Homo sapiens: one gene and its partner. The protein of the gene in region 1 interacts with the protein of each later gene in a biochemical or structural test. Each region holds a gene or a part of one and is shown on either strand. Other genes may lie near its edges.

Evidence for each region.
Region 2: of the proteins of CDC25C (region 1) and CHEK1, one has a biochemical effect on the other in vitro, tested with the Homo sapiens proteins (16 studies listed by BioGRID and IntAct, with this or other methods).

What each region holds. Positions count from the first base shown.
Region 1 is NC_000005.10:138,314,345-138,322,558, reverse strand, and holds part of CDC25C (M-phase inducer phosphatase 3), read left to right. Parts: intron 1-3,184; coding exon 3,185-3,340; intron 3,341-8,214. UniProt on the Homo sapiens protein: Functions as a dosage-dependent inducer in mitotic control. Tyrosine protein phosphatase required for progression of the cell cycle. When phosphorylated, highly effective in activating G2 cells into prophase.
Region 2 is NC_000011.10:125,628,018-125,635,775, forward strand, and holds part of CHEK1 (serine/threonine-protein kinase Chk1), read left to right. Parts: intron 1-1,214; coding exon 1,215-1,279; intron 1,280-1,373; coding exon 1,374-1,443; intron 1,444-5,145; coding exon 5,146-5,334; intron 5,335-7,411; coding exon 7,412-7,516; intron 7,517-7,758. UniProt on the Homo sapiens protein: Serine/threonine-protein kinase which is required for checkpoint-mediated cell cycle arrest and activation of DNA repair in response to the presence of DNA damage or unreplicated DNA.

The DNA of each region.
Region 1 (8,214 bases):
GCTTGCAGTGAGCCGAGATCGTGCCACTGTACTCCAGTCTGGGCGACAGAGCGAGACTCCATCTCAAAAAAAAAAAAAAAAAAAAAAAAAAATTAGCCGGGCGTGGTGGCAGGCATCTGTAATCCCAGCTACCCAAGACGCTGAGGCAGGAGAATCAGTTGAACCCAGGAGGCAGAGGTTTCAGTAAGCCGAGACTGCACCACTGCACTCCAGCCTGGGCGACAGAGCGAGACTCTGTCTCAAATAATAATAATTATAGGCCGGGTGCTGTGGCTCACGCCTGTAATCCCATCACTTTGGGAGGCCGAGGCAGGCGGATCACAAGGTCAGGAGATCGAGACCATCCTGGCTAACATGGTGAAACCCTGTCTCTACTAAAAGTACAAAAAATTAGCCAGTCGTGGTGGCGGGCGCCTGTAGTCCCAGCTACTCCGGAGGCTGAAGTAGGAGAATGGCGTGAACCCGGGAGGCGGAGCTTGCAGTGAGCCAAGATCGCGCCACTGCACTCCAGCCTGGGCGACAAAGCATGTCTCTGTATCAAAAAATAAAATAAAATAATAATAATAATTAGTAGTGATTTCATGTGATTATTATCCATGCGTAATTTCTCTAGTGTCTTTTGTGCCCTTATAATACTGGGGTCTTAACTTACCCAGGCATTGACTTGCCTTTCATAGACCATGGACTCCAGAGATTTGGATTATTATTTCTAATCTCAACCCTGAGGGAAAGCTATTTTAACATATTCTATCCTATGAAGATAAAGTTGATCATGGTTTTTTTTTTTTTTTTTTTTTTTTTTTTTTTTGAGACAGAGTCTTGCTCTGTCACCAGGCTGGAGTGCAGTGGTGCGATCTCAGCTCACTGCAACCTCTGCCTCCTGGGTTCAAGCAATTCCACTGCCTCAGCCTCCCCAGTAGCTGGGACTATAGGCGTGCACCACCACACCCAGCTAATTTTTTGTATTTTAGTAGAGACGGGGTTTCACCATGTTGGCCAGGATGCTCTCGATCTCCTGACCTCGTGATCCACCTGCCTCGGCCTCCCAAAGTGCTGGGATTACAGGCATGAGCCACCGCGCCTGGCCACTAAGTTGATCATGTTTTATTTAGGTTTTTGGTTTCTAGGATGGAGGGAAGACCTGGAGTATGTTCAATTATTGGATAGTCTTATATGTGATTTTTTTTAATTGCAGTAAAATGTACATAATATTTACAATTTTAACTATTTGTGAGTGTGCAGTCTAGTGACAGTAAGTATATTAATAATGTGAGACTATCACCAGAACTCATTTCCAGAATTTTTTCATTATTCAAAACAGAAGCTGTATACCCTTAAGTGATAACTCCCCATCCCTGTTTCTGCCCAGCCAATGATAACCTCTATTTTCTGTGTCAGTGAATTTGACTATTCTAGATACCTCATATGAGTAGAATAATATTATATTTTGTCCTTTCATGTGTGTGTGTGAGGTCTCACTCTGTCACCTCTGCTGGAGTACAGTGGCACAATCATAACTCACTGCAGCCTCAAACTCCCGGGCTCTGATTATTCTCCCACCTCAGCCTACCAAGTAGGTGGGACTGCAAGTGTGTGCCACTATGCCTGGCTACTTTTTTTTTTTTTTTTTTTTTTTTTTTTTTGAGACAGAGTCTCACTCTGTCACCCAGGCTGGAGTGCAGTGGTGCAATCTTGACTCACTGCAACCTTTATCTCCCAGGTTCAGGTGATTCTTATGCCTTAACCTCCCTAGTAGCTGGGATTACAGACGTGTGCTACCATGCCTGGTGAATTTTTTTGTATTTTTAGTAGAGACGGAGTTTCACCATGTTGGCCAGGCTGGTCTTAAACTCCTGGCCTCATGTGATCTGCCCACCTCAACCTAATTTTTTTGTATATTTTGTAGAATCAGGGTTTTGCCATGTTGCCCAGGCTGGTCTCAAACTCCTGGGTTCAAGAGATCCATCTGCTTCAGCCTCCCATAGTGCTGGGGTTACAGGTGTGAGCCACTGCGTCCAGCCTATATTTTCATTTAGCGTAATGTCTTCAAAGTTCATCTATGTCATAGCATGTATTAGAATTTCATTTCTTTTGTATGTATATATCATATTTTGTTTATCCATTCATCTGTTGATGGACATTTTGAGTTGTTTCCAACCTTTTGGCCATTGTGAGTAATGCCGTTATGAACATAGGTGTACAAAATCTGCTTGAGTCCTTGCTTTTATTTTATTTTGTGTATTTTTTTTTTCCAAGATGGAGTCTTTGCCCTGTCACCCAGGCTGGAGTGCAGTGGAACGATCACAGCTCACTGCAACTTCCACCTCCCTGGTTCAAGCAGTTCTCCTGCCTCAGCCTCCCAAGTAGCTGGGATTACAGGCACATGCTACCATGCCCGGCTAATTTTTGTATTTTTAGTAGAGATGGGGTTTCAACATGTTGGCCAGGCTGCTCTCGAACTCCTGACCTCGTGATCTGCTGGCCTCGGCCTCCCGAAGTACTGGGATTACAGGCGTGAGCTACTGCGCCCGGCCCCTGCTTTTAATTCTTTTGGGTATATATTCAGAAGTAGAATTGCTTGATTACATGATAATTCTACATTTAATTTTTTGAGGAACTGCCATGCTATTATCCATAGAATGCCTCTGCACCCTTTTACATTCCCACCAGCAATGCACAAACACTTGTTATTTCTTATAATGGCTATCCTAATGGGTATAAAGAAGTATCTCTTGCAATTTTCATATGCATTTCCATAATGATTACTTTGTTGAGCATCTTTTGATGTGCTTATGGGCCATTTGTATATCTTCTTTGGAGAAATGTCTATTCATGTCCCTTTTGATTGTTATTGTTGTTGTTACTGAGTTGTAGGAGTTCCTTATATATTCTGATATTAATCTCTCATCAAATATAAGACTTGCAAATGTTTTCTCCCATTTTGTGGGTTGCCTTTTCATTCCCTTAATGGTGTTCTTTGATGCACAAAAGTTTTCCATTTTGATGAAGACCAATTTATCTGTTTTTTTCTTTCGTTACCTGTGCTTTTGGTGGCATTATCCAAATCCAGTGTCATGAATTTTTTCCCTTATCTTTTCTTCTAAGAGTTTTATAGTTTTAGCTCTTACATTTAGAACTTTGATATATTTTGAATAGTTTTTAATGTTGTCAATATACTTGACAGGACAATGGAAACTTGGTGGACAGTGAAATGAAATATTTGGGCAGTCCCATTACTACTGTTCCAAAATTGGATAAAAATCCAAACCTAGGAGAAGACCAGGCAGAAGAGATTTCAGATGAATTAATGGAGTTTTCCCTGAAAGATCAAGAAGCAAAGGTAAAGTGTTCTGTGGTAGTATCTTTGTATTCTTCATATTCCTTCATTCTGTTAAAAGAAGAACTAGACAAATTAAACTTAGGAGAGTTTATTTGAGCAAAAAAATAACTAGTGAATCCAGCAACCCTCATAGCCAGAACATGTTCAGTAAAACTCCAGTTTGCCATGTGGTCAGGCAGTATTATGGACAGAAAATGGAAATGAAGTACAGAAAATAGAAGTGAGGTACAGAGACAGCCCAGTTGGTTGCAGCCTTGAGTTTGCCTTATTTGAACATGGTTTAAACAGTTGATTGCTTGTGGTTGACTGAAGCTCAGCTGCTGTGCTTTCCTGAGACTCAGCTTTTTGATACAAAAGTATACTTCTAAATTAGGCTTTCAGTTAGTTTAAGTACTAAGTTAGGTTGCAACTTGGTATATAAAGACTCAAGTACAGAGGCATCCCCAGGCCAAATTTAGTTTAATTAAGAATTCATTCTTCTTTTTTTTGTTGTTTGTTTTTTTTAAGACAGATTCTCGCTCTGTCGCCTAGGCTGGAGTGCAGTGGCGCCATCTTGGCTCACTGCGACCTCCTCTTCCCAGGTTCAAGCGATTCTCCTGCCTCAGCCTCTCGAGTAGCTGGGATTACAGGTGTGCACCACCACACCCGGGTAATTTTTAGTATTTTTAGTAGAGACAGGGTTTCACCATGTTGGCCAGGCTGGTCTTAAACTCCTGGCCTCAGGTGATCTACCCACCTCAGGCTTCCAAAGTGCTGGGATTGCAAGCGTGAGCCACCATGCCCAGCCAACAATTCATTCTTGAATAAACATTTTATGCCTGATATGTATGAGTCACTCTACTAAATGCTAGAGCTACAGAGATCAACAAGATGTGATAACCTATCTTTATTTATTTATTTATTTTTGAGATGGAGTCTTGCTGTGTCACCTAGGCTGGAGTGCAGTGGTGGTATCTCAGCTCACTGCAACCTCCGTCTCCTGGGTTTAAGTGATTCTCTTGCCTCAGCCTCCCAAAGCACGCCATCATGCCTGGCTAATTTTTTGTAATTTTAGTAGAGACGGGGTTTTGCCATGTTGGCCAGACTGGTCTCGAACTCCTGACCTCAAGTGATCTGCCCGCCTTGGCCTCCCAAAGAGCTGGGATTACAGGCATGAGCCACCACGCCTGGCGTAACCTATCTTTAGACTGTAGGGTTACCTGACTGATAGGTTATCAGGTCACTACAGAAATCTTCTTACTGCTGGTGAACAGGTTCCAGTCAATAGTTTGAGTGGATCACCATCAAAGTAATCTAGGATAAGTAATGTCTCCAGGATAATGGTAATGTATAAATGTATAGAATATACCTAACATTACTTTTCAGGTATTTTATAATACAGTCTTTTGTTTCCTTTTTTCTTTCCCATATCACTGATAGATATACCTGAAGCATGTGGGTTATAGCCTATATGCTGATATGCCAAAGATAGTTTCTGAGGCATTTAGCTTTTTTTGGTTTTTGGTTTTTGGTTTTTTTTTTTTTTTTTTTTTTTTTAGATAGACAGGGTCTTTCTCTGTAGCCCAGGCTGGGGTACGTGGCACAATTAAAGTTCACTGCAGCCTCAATCTCCCCAGGCTCTGGCAGTCCTCCCACCTCAGCCTCCAAGTAGCTGGGACTATAGGCACATGCCATCATACCTGGCTAATTTTTTGTATTTTTTGTAGCGATGTGGTTTCACAATATTGCCCAGGCTAGTCTCAAACTCCTGGACTCAAGTGATTCACACACCTTGGCCTCCCAAAGTGCTGGGATTACAGGCATGAGCTACCATGCCTGGCCTACATTTAGCATTTCTAAATCAGCTTTGTTGCTTTGAAACAAGTAGGGCTATGGGTTTGTCTTTAAAATTTATTCATTTCACAAGGCCAGTATGGTATAGTGGAGTTAGAACAGTTGCATTCTAGTCCTCATGCTTTTATTTTTTTTAATTATTTAATTAATTAGATAGGGTCTTGCTCTGCTCTGTCACCCAGACTGGAGTGCAGTGTTGAACTCCTGGGCTCAAGTAATCCTCCCACCTCAGCCTCCTGAGTAGCTAGGACTATAGGTGCATACCACCATGCCCAGCTAATTTTTAAAATTTTTTGTAGAGATGGGGTCTTGATGTGTTGCCCAAGCTGGTTTGGAACTCCTGCGCTCCAGCAATCCTCTTGCCTTTGTTGCGGGATCTTTAGGGTGTTGCTTTTCTGGCCAGAAACCTTTCTGCCCAGTGGTGCCTTTGCCTGAGTTGTTGTCCTGCGTCGAGGTAAGCAGACAAGTAGAGGGTTAGCAAGACGAAGAGAAGCTTTATTGAGTGTTAGAACAGCTCAGAGGAGACCCACAGGGGGCAGCTCCTCTCTGTAGGCAGTTTGTCTTATCCCGTATTCAGCTCTCAGCAGAGAGGAGGCCCTGGAGTGGGTGGCTCCTCTCTGCAGGCAGGTCCTCCCTGTTGATTTCCCAGCTTTCAGCAGACAGCATAGCTCCTCTCTCCTCTTTGGTTGTCTGATCTTTTCTCCATCCTCTACCCTGCTCTGGCTGAGCCTGGGCCTTTTATGGACCTCAGAGGGGAGAAAGTGCTTCCTGATTGGTTCATGGACTGTGAGAAAAGGCAGCACAAATCCCCATCCAGTGGGTGGGACTAGCAGCCCGGTCCCCAGCCTTTAAGCCCTCCCCGTCCTGAAGGTGGGGACTTACAGGAACCTCCCTTCTACCCAGGAGCCTGTCTGTCTCTCTCAGCAGTCCATGGCACCAGGCTGCTCACACCAAGGTGCACCTAAAGGCCAGCACTGACCACCCTCAGTCCCTACTTGGCTTCCCCTCTTTTGCTTCTCCGTGCCCAAATTCTAGAGGGGGTCAAGGTGGCAGGGTGCTGCCCTGAGGGTGCACACACAGATCCGCCCCCGGACTGTAACAGCACCTGGACTTGCCCCAACCCCACTCTGAGATTGGAGTGGGTGCCAAGAGCAGAGAGAAGTGGGGATATGGGGGTGGTGGGGAGGCCTTCCTGGGCCCCCAAGGGTGCAGGCTGCAGAGACTATTAGGTCCTGCACCTGGGAGGGCAGCTGCAGCTGCACCCGGGAAGGCAGGGATCCTGCCTGCTCCCGGCCCCCACAAGACCACAGGGAGGCTCGGATCTGCAGCCACAACTTGGGCGGCTGCAAGCCCACCCAGGAGGGCAGGGCTTCTGCCTGCTCCGTGGAACAGGAGGCCCAGGTTAACAGCTGCAGTTTGTGTAGCTCCAGCAGCACCAGGGGAGCTCCTGCCCCAACTCAGAAGGGGAAGGGCTCCCGCTAGCTCCATGGATCATGCAGCCCTATCCATACCTCTCTGCTGCAGCCAGTTTGATGACAGCAGCAAGCCCTCTGGAGTTGCAGCTGCCAACACCTTGGCCTCTCAAAGTGCTGGAATTACAAGTGTGAGCCACCGTATCCAGCCTCATTCTTTTATTTACTTGGTGGTATGACTGTTCACAAGACAACCACTTGACCTCAGTTTTTAATTTATAAAATGGAGAGCATGATAAAACAACTACCTCCTTAATAGGCTTGTTGTAAATAAAATATTAAAAGCAGTTTATGTCCTCATCACATACACACAAATGGTAACTGTGTGATGAAGGATGTGTTAATGAATTTCATTGTGGTAATCCTCATGTAATATATACGTAAATCATTATATTGTACTCCTTAAGTATATACAAATTTTATCATTTATACCTCCATAAAATAGAAAAAAAAATTTAAAGAGCAGTTTGTAATACAGTAGTCCTCTGTTATCCACAGAGAATACATTCTGAGACCCCCCAGTGGATGCCTAAAATTGCAGACAGTACTGAACCCTATATATACCATGCTTTTCCCTATGCATATGTACCTGTGATGGAGTTTTTTACTTAGGCATAGTAAGAGATTAACAATAATAACTAATAATAAAATAGAACAATTACAACAACATACTATAATAAAAATTATAGGAGGCTGGGCGTGGTGGTTTATGCCTGTAATCCCAGCACACTGGGAGGCCGAAGCGGGTGGTCAGGAGTTTGAGAGCTGCCTGGCCAACATGGTGAAACTCCATCTCTACTAAAAATACAAAAATTAGCTGGGCGTGGTGGTGAGCATCTGTAACCCCAGCTACTGGGCTGGCTGAGGCAGTAGAATCGCTTGAACTTAAACCCAGGTGGCAGAGGCTGCAGTGAGCCGAGATCGCACCGCTGTACTCCAGCCTGGGCAACAGAGTGAGACTCTAACTCAAAAAAAAAAAAAAAAAAAAGTGCTGGCTGGGCATGGTGAGTCAGGCCTGTAATCCCAGCACTTTAGGAGGTTGAGATGGGCAGATCACCTGAAGCCAGGAGTTTGAGACCAGCTTGGCCAACATGGTGAAACCCTGTCTCTATTAAAAATACCAAAAAAAAAAAAAAAATTAGCCAGGTGTGGTGGCGGGCACCTGTAATCCCAGCTACCCAGGAGGCTGAGGCAGGAGAATCGCTTGAACCTAGGAGGCAGAGGTTGCAGTGAGCCAAGATCGCTCCATTGCACTCCAGCCTGGGCAACAAGAGTGAAACTCTGTCTCAAAAAAAAAAAAAAAAAAAAAAGTGCTATAGGCTGGGAGCGGTGACTCACACCTGTAATCCCAGAACTTTGGGAGGTCAAGGTGGGTGGATCACCTGAGGTCAGGATTTCTAGACCAGCCTGGCCAACAGTATGAAACCTTGGCTCTACTAAAAATACAAAAATTAGCTGGGTGTGGTGGCAGGTGCCTGTAATGCCAGCTACTTGGGAGGCTTAGGCAGGAGAATCACTTGAACCCAGGAGGTGGAGGTTGCATTGAGCCAAGATCACACCGTTGCACTC
Region 2 (7,758 bases), on another chromosome or scaffold:
GAAAACTTCTTTCCCAAGTTATATAAGTGATTTTGATTTAAGATTGGTGTCTTACAGAATTTAAGAGTGACAAACAAGTTTTATGGTACATCATAAATGCAGTGTATCCTAAATGCAATGTATTGCCTACACAATTTTTTCTTTGTAGACATTCTAGTTACATGAAATCATTGTATACATTTTATACATTTACAGATCTAAAATAGCATGCTGTTTCCTCTTGGTTTACATGAAATAATTGAGAATTTTCTAGGATTGCTTTTTGTATATTAAGTAAATTCTATGTTTGCTATTAATACTTAAATATTCGATGTAGAATCAAAGGATTGATATTTCAGAACACTGAGAAGTACATAAAATCTGGATCTAAATTTATAATTTAAATTTATAATTTAAAGCTATTGTATTAAATAAGTTTATCAGTTAAAAACTGATAAAGAGGTATTAGGATCTCCAGTGTGACTCAGGAGAGAGTTGAGGGTAAAAGAAATGGAGTTAATGAGAGAGATCAAAATATAAAAAGATAACTGATAAAAGAACTTTCATAATAAAACTGTTTCACGAAGGACCTCACAGGCATTTGTGGTTTTGTACTGTGAGACTATATGAAGTTTAAATCTGAGCCAGGTGTGGTGGTACATGCCTGCAATCCTAGCTACTTAGGAGGCAGGAGGATTGCTTGAGCTCAAGAGTTCCAGGTTACAGTAAGTTATGATCTCACGCCAGGGCACTCCAGCCTGGGTGAAAGAACAAGACCGTATCTCTAAAAAAAGTTAAATTATAAAAGAAGTATAATCTGTAAAATATTTAGTGAAATTGGCTTAGATTTGCCCAGACTTCCCCTTTGGCATTATATTTCAGGAATGAGAAAAATAATTAGCATAGCATTTAGAAGAAATGGGGGGAATTTCAAGGTTACTAAATAAATCAGGGTTAGTATAAGAGGAAGCAGAGGCTTTGAAGTCATGGCTTGCATTCTTGATTTGGATATTGGTTTTCTCTTTATAATTTTTCTGTGATGACGCCTTTTGCCACCTAACACAGGTAAATGTGAGTTAAGCCCCATATGTGTTAGTGGACTCCTGAATCTTTTGTTGGCATTTGCTTCTGTTTGCCTAAGCACATTTGTAAATGTCTAAGCTTCAAATTAAGAAGCTATGTGGTTGCTACCTGATTATATTTAGTCAATAAACTTACTTTCATATTTGTTTTAGAGCCAGACATAGGCATGCCTGAACCAGATGCTCAGAGATTCTTCCATCAACTCATGGCAGGGGTGGTAGGTATAGTTGTCTATTTCCCTTTTACTTAAAATTAGAGTGAATACATTACATTACCAAATTCTAGTGTGTTTCTCTCTGCATCCCTCTTAGGTTTATCTGCATGGTATTGGAATAACTCACAGGGATATTAAACCAGAAAATCTTCTGTTGGATGAAAGGGGTAAGTTTAGCATTTTATCACTACCTAAAATAAAATAAAATAATTACCTAAATTATTTTAATTACCTAATTATTTTAATATAGCCATACAAGGCAAAATCAAGTCTTTTTGCATTACTGGAATTTCAAGACAAGATCTGAAAAATCAAGGAAATTTTGGAGACTTCGTATATTTGGAAATCACAAGTCTCATTTTGCAATACAAGTGCGGATCAGGTAGAGAAATCTGACCTAGGTGCAAGCCTAGCTCACTATATGTATAAGAATAATTTTTTTTTTTTTGATACAGGCTCACTGTGTTGTCCAGTCTGGGGTGCACTGTATTATCACAGTTCACTGCAGCCTTGACCTCCTAGGCTCAAGCAATCCTACCATCTCAGCTTCCCGAGTAGCTAGGACCAACCACAGGCAGGTGCCACCATGCCTGGCTAATTTTTGATTTTTTGAAGAGGTGGAGTCTTCCTGTGTTGCTCAGGCTAGTCTTGAACTCCTGGACTCAAGCAGTTTACCAGCCTTAGCCTCCCAGAGTGTTGGGATTATAGACGTGAGCCACCATGCCTGGCCAAGAATAGTTTAAAATAATCCTTTAATGGATTAATAAAGGGAAGTTCCTGTGGAATACCCTGGACCTTAGTCTTGTCCTGTTCACTCTTTTTTTATGTATGACGTGGATAAAAATGTAAGAAATTTAGTTATATTTTCTGAATGTCATCAAATTGAGAAGGATGGATAGCGAAAGCTTTAAGCTTACAGGGTCAGAATCAAAAAAGAAATGTCAGCTGTATGAGGCAGTAGTTTTTGTCTGGTTTAATGCTTTATTCTTAGTATTAGAATAGTGCTTAACAAATGGTCAGCTTTTTTTTTTTTTTGAAACAGAGTCTTGCTGTGTTGCCCAGGCTGGAGTGTAGTGACATGATCTCGGCTCACTGTAACCTCTACCTCTCTGGTTCAGGTGATTCTTGTGCCTTAGGCCCCTGAGTAGCTGGGATTACAAGCCTGAGTCACCACACCTGGCTCATTTTTATATTTTTAGTAGAGATGGGGTTTTGTCATATTGGCCAGGCTGGTCTCGAGCTCCTGGCCTCAAGTGATCTGCCTCCCTTGGCCTCCCAGAGTGCTGGGATTATAGGTGTGAGCCGCTGTACCCAGCCTATACATGCTTTTTTCTTATGTGCATATGGATTTTACTTTTTACCCCTTTAAACTGAGTTTATATGACATAAAAATCTTTATTTTTATTTAAAACTTTAAAAATTCAGGTACACAAAAATTCTTATGTATTATAATGAAATGTAAATATATGTATATCAACCCACCTGGTTTAAAAATACAACATTATTCGTATATAAGAATGCTCACAGTGGTGATGTTTTTAATATAGCAGGAAACTAACCCAAATGTCTGTCAACAATAAATTATGAAATGCATGGCTTTTCAAGCCATGTCACAAGCAGTGACACAAGCATGTCACAAGCAGTGACATGGATGAATTTCAGGTATATAATGATGTAGAGCAAAAAGAGACAGTTGCAAAAGAATTCATATGGTCTGATTCTGTTTATACAAAGTTCAAAAATATGTAAAACCTAGTATATTGTTCAAGTATGTAAACATGGAGAAAAAAACATGCAGAAAAGCAAGGGTATAATAAAACCAAATTCAGAATGGTCTAAGAAAGTAGGGGAGGGAATGTATTTAAGGAAGTATTTAAAGATTTCAAAGGAAATAGAGCATTGTTTTTCTAAAGTGAGTGGGTGTTTATTACATTGTTATTCTTTATATCTTGTATTAATATACAAGATATAATTCTTTGTTTCTATTTAATATTTAGGAGTCTTTTAAAAAAAGAAATAAAATGTTACCAGTATTTAATGTCCTCCTGTTTATTTCATCACAAATATATTCTTCCTTTGTTTTTCTAAGAGCTAAACACATTCCTACATTTAAATTTTATTATGTGCAGTTCTCTAACATAGCTGAGTATTATGTTGCAGACATAACAAAGTCCAAGGAATACTATAGTTATCCATTAGTATTTTAAGTGATTACTACTCATAAGTAATTTGAAACTCAATCTCAGTGGTTTGTCCAATAGTGTCATATTTAACTACTGAAAAGATAATCAACTGGGTGCAGTAGCTCATGCCTGTAATCCCAGAGGCTGAGGTGGGACGATTGAGTGATTCTAGGAGTTTGAGACCAGCCTAGACAACATAGACCCTGTCTTTATGAAAAATTAAAAAAAAAAATTAGCTAGACATGGTGGTGCACACCTGGAGTCCCAGCTACTTGGAAGGCTGAAGCAGGAGGATTGATCACTTCAGCCTAGGAGGTCAAGGCTGCAGTAAGCTGTGATCACATCACTACACTCTAGTCTGGGCAGCAGAGTGAGACACTTTCTCAAAAAAAAAAAAAAAAAAAAAAAAAAAGGGTAATCACAGTAGCTACCTCCTAAGTCAGATAGAGGTAAACATTTCATTGGTTTACATATTGTGTGAATGTACTTGATTTTTAAAGAAATCAGTCCCCTATTTTGAGACATTTAAGTTGTTTCTAACTTATAAAATAGGACAGTGATGGCTTCTATCAATTTGTGTAAAAGGCCAATATAAAAATTGCGTCATGCTATAATATTTTTTATGCTATAATATTTTTTATGCCATTAGCCTTTTTGTCCCACTTACACACTATTTCATGTTAGTATGTATAGATATACCTTGTTGATTGTTTTCAAAACCTACCTCCACATTTTCCATTGTACAAATTTGGACATTTATTTACAAATAATATTGCTATGAATATTCTTATGTTTATGAATTTGTGGGATTATTTCTATGGATATAGAAGTGGGAATTGCTAGTTCAAAGAGTGAATGTTTCACAGTTTAGTATGTTTTGCCAAATTGCCCTCTGATAATAGAGGGCCTTTTCTAACTCTTAAGACTGGGTTACATTCCTTTGCTCTAAGATCCTATAGTGCTCTATATTTTTATAACCTTCATAACAGTTTTCTATTGTCAGTCTTCACTAATTTATCTATTACCTGCATTGGCTGGCATAGTGTCTGTCACTAAGTTACAGTAGATATTCACTAAACATAAGTTAAGTCCTGCCTGCAGTTTTTGTGTGTTGAAGATGGGAAGTTAGGGTGGAAGTTGGGTCTTCTGATATTTTTTTTTTGTACAGAGTTTGTCCTCTTTTTCTCAGACTCTCTACTTTGAAGAAAAAAATTACTGTGGTTTGTTGAATTTTGGTGTGTCTTCACATATTTTCTTCTGCCAACTGGGTTTGTTTGCTGCTGAGAAAGTTGTGCCTAACATACTACTGATGTTTCCTTCCTGCCCTCCACCCTACCTGATGAGGGGCCTTGCTTTACTTTCATCTCAGGTTTAGAGTGCTCTTTTCCAGAAGGGCAGCCCCTTCTGACTCCAGCCTCTTTCTTTAATCTGGTCCAGACTGTTCTGTGTGTTGATAATACTTCTTTTAAGTTAATAGAAGAGGTGAGGCCTTTTTCTACTTTTAGCATAGATGATGATTTATTTTATTTTTTTAAATTTCTTTTTGTCTATTTTGCTTATTTTAAGAGAAGTTCTACAAACCTTAAGTAACACCAGTGATTTTTTTTCAGTAAAACTTAATTCCTGTAAGTATATCTATTTGCAAAACATTTTTATTCAGTGTCATCTTTTTTTCTTTTGGTTTAGATAACCTCAAAATCTCAGACTTTGGCTTGGCAACAGTATTTCGGTATAATAATCGTGAGCGTTTGTTGAACAAGATGTGTGGTACTTTACCATATGTTGCTCCAGAACTTCTGAAGAGAAGAGAATTTCATGCAGAACCAGTTGATGTTTGGTCCTGTGGAATAGTACTTACTGCAATGCTCGCTGGAGGTAAGAGCTATTTAATCATGGTAAAACTCCTATAAAAAGTCAGATTAGTTATACTGAAATAAATGAAATAAACCAAGGAATTCATGTTTATATAATAGTTTTTGTTTTCTTTTTTAAGAGACAGGGTCTCACTCTTGGCCAGACTGGAGTACAGTGAGCTGTTATAGCTCACTGCAGCCTCAAACTTCTAGGCTCAAGCAATCCTCTGGCCTCACTCTTCCAAGTAGCTAGGACCAGTGGTGCCTGCCACAAGACATCTGGCTAAGTTTTAAAAATTCATTGTAGAGATGGGATCTTGCTGTGTTGTCCAGGCTGGTCTTAAACACCTGGTCTCAAGCAAGCCTTCTGTCTTGGTCTCCAAACTGTTAGGATTAAAGTAAAGACATGAGCCATGGTACCCAGCTTTTATAGTAGTATTTTAATAGTGTCTTGATCGGTTTGGTAACTGCTGTAACAAAGTATCATAGACTGCATAGCTTATAAACAGCAAATTTATTTCTCACAGTTCTGGAGGCTGAAAATATGAGATTAGGGGTGCCAACCTGGTCATGTTTTAGTGAGGGCCCTCTTCCTGATTTGCAGATGGCTGTCTTGCTGTGCTCTCTCATGGTGGACAGCCAAGAGAGCAGAAGCAAGCTCTATTGTGGTTTTTTTTTTTTTTTTTAGACCAGAGTCTTGCTCTGTCACCCACGCTGGAGTACAGTGATGTGATCTCAGCTCACTGCAACCTCTGCCTCCCAGGTTCTAGCAATTCTGTCCCAGGCTCCCAAGTAGCTGGGATTACAGGCATGCATCATCACACCCGGCTAATTTTTGTATTTTGAGTAGAGACAGGGTTTCACCATGTTGGCCAGACTGGTCTCAAACTCCTGACCTCAAGTGATCCCCCAACCTCAGCCTCCCAAAGTGCTGTTTTTTGGGTTTTTTGTTAAATGACCAGATGTTGTGAGATATTGTGTCTGTTTTTTGTTTTTTTGTGGTTTTTTTTGAGACAGGGTCTCACTCTATTGCCCAGGCTGGAGTGCAGTGGCACAATTCAAGGCTCACTGCAGCCTTGAGCTCCCAGGCTCAAGCGATCCTCCTGCCTCAGTCTCCTCAGTATCTGGGTCTACAGGCGTGCACCACCACACCTGGCTAATTTGTTGTGGGTTTTTTTTCACAGACGGTCTCTCCATGTTACGTAGGCTGGTCTTAAACTCCTGGGCTCAAGTAATCTGCCTACCTAAGCCTCCCAAAGTGCTGGGATTATATAATTAGTGCCCTATAAAGATACAATATTGTCCGGGCACACAAGCCCTTATTAGACATTAATAAGCTCTTAATAAGAGCACTAATACCATTTTTTGAGTGGTCCCATCACCAGGACCTAATTACGTCTCAAAGGCCCCACCTCCGAATGCCATTGCATTATGAGTTAGGATATCAACATGACTTTTGAGGGGGATACAAATATTTAGCACATTGCAAATAGTAACTTATTTATAATCCCAAAGATTTTTTAAGCTAAGGCATGCATAGTTATTAAATATCACAACACTTATCTCTCCTGTGTATCATGTAAACATTTGTGAAAACAAGACTAGGGCAAGAAATGATTCATCTGTTTTTTGGTTTTTTTTTTTTTGAGACAAAGTCTTGCTCTGTCGCCCAGGCTGCAGTGCAGCAGTGTGATCTTGGCTCACTGCAGTCTTGACCTCTTGGGTTCAAGTGATCCTCTCACTTTAGCCTCCTGAGGAGCCAGGACTACAGATGCACACCATCACGCCCAGCTAATTTTATTTATTTTTTGTAGAGATGGGGTCTCACTATGTTGCCCAGGCTGGTCTTGAACTCCTGGGCTCAAGCAGTCCTTCTGCCTCAGCCTCCCAAAGTGCTGTGATTACAGGCCTGAGCTGCCATGCCTATCCTGATTCATCTATCTTTGAAGTGCCTCTAAAGTTTCCAAGTTGGGATTCTTAGTGTGAAAACCATATTGAATTAATTCAAAGGAAACTTTTCATGGATTTATATTATTATTTTTCCTTGAAATCTTTATAATAAGAACATTTAAAAAAACTGGGACTTGCTTTGTTTTTAGAATTGCCATGGGACCAACCCAGTGACAGCTGTCAGGAGTATTCTGACTGGAAAGAAAAAAAAACATACCTCAACCCTTGGAAAAAAATCGATTCTGCTCCTCTAGGTAACTGAATTATCTTGAGTGAAAGAGTACCGATTTCTTGGATATGAAGTCTTGTGCTATTTGAATTTTTTCTTACTTTTTTTTTTGTTTTAAACTTACAAATAATTCATGTTCGTTGTAGATAAAATAGTAACTATAAGTAAAAAATTAAGGAAAAAATAACTCTTTAGTCCCAGAACTCTGCAATAGATTTTTAAAAATATTTTGGGGAGTGTATATTCAGAGCAACTTGAATCTGCTCT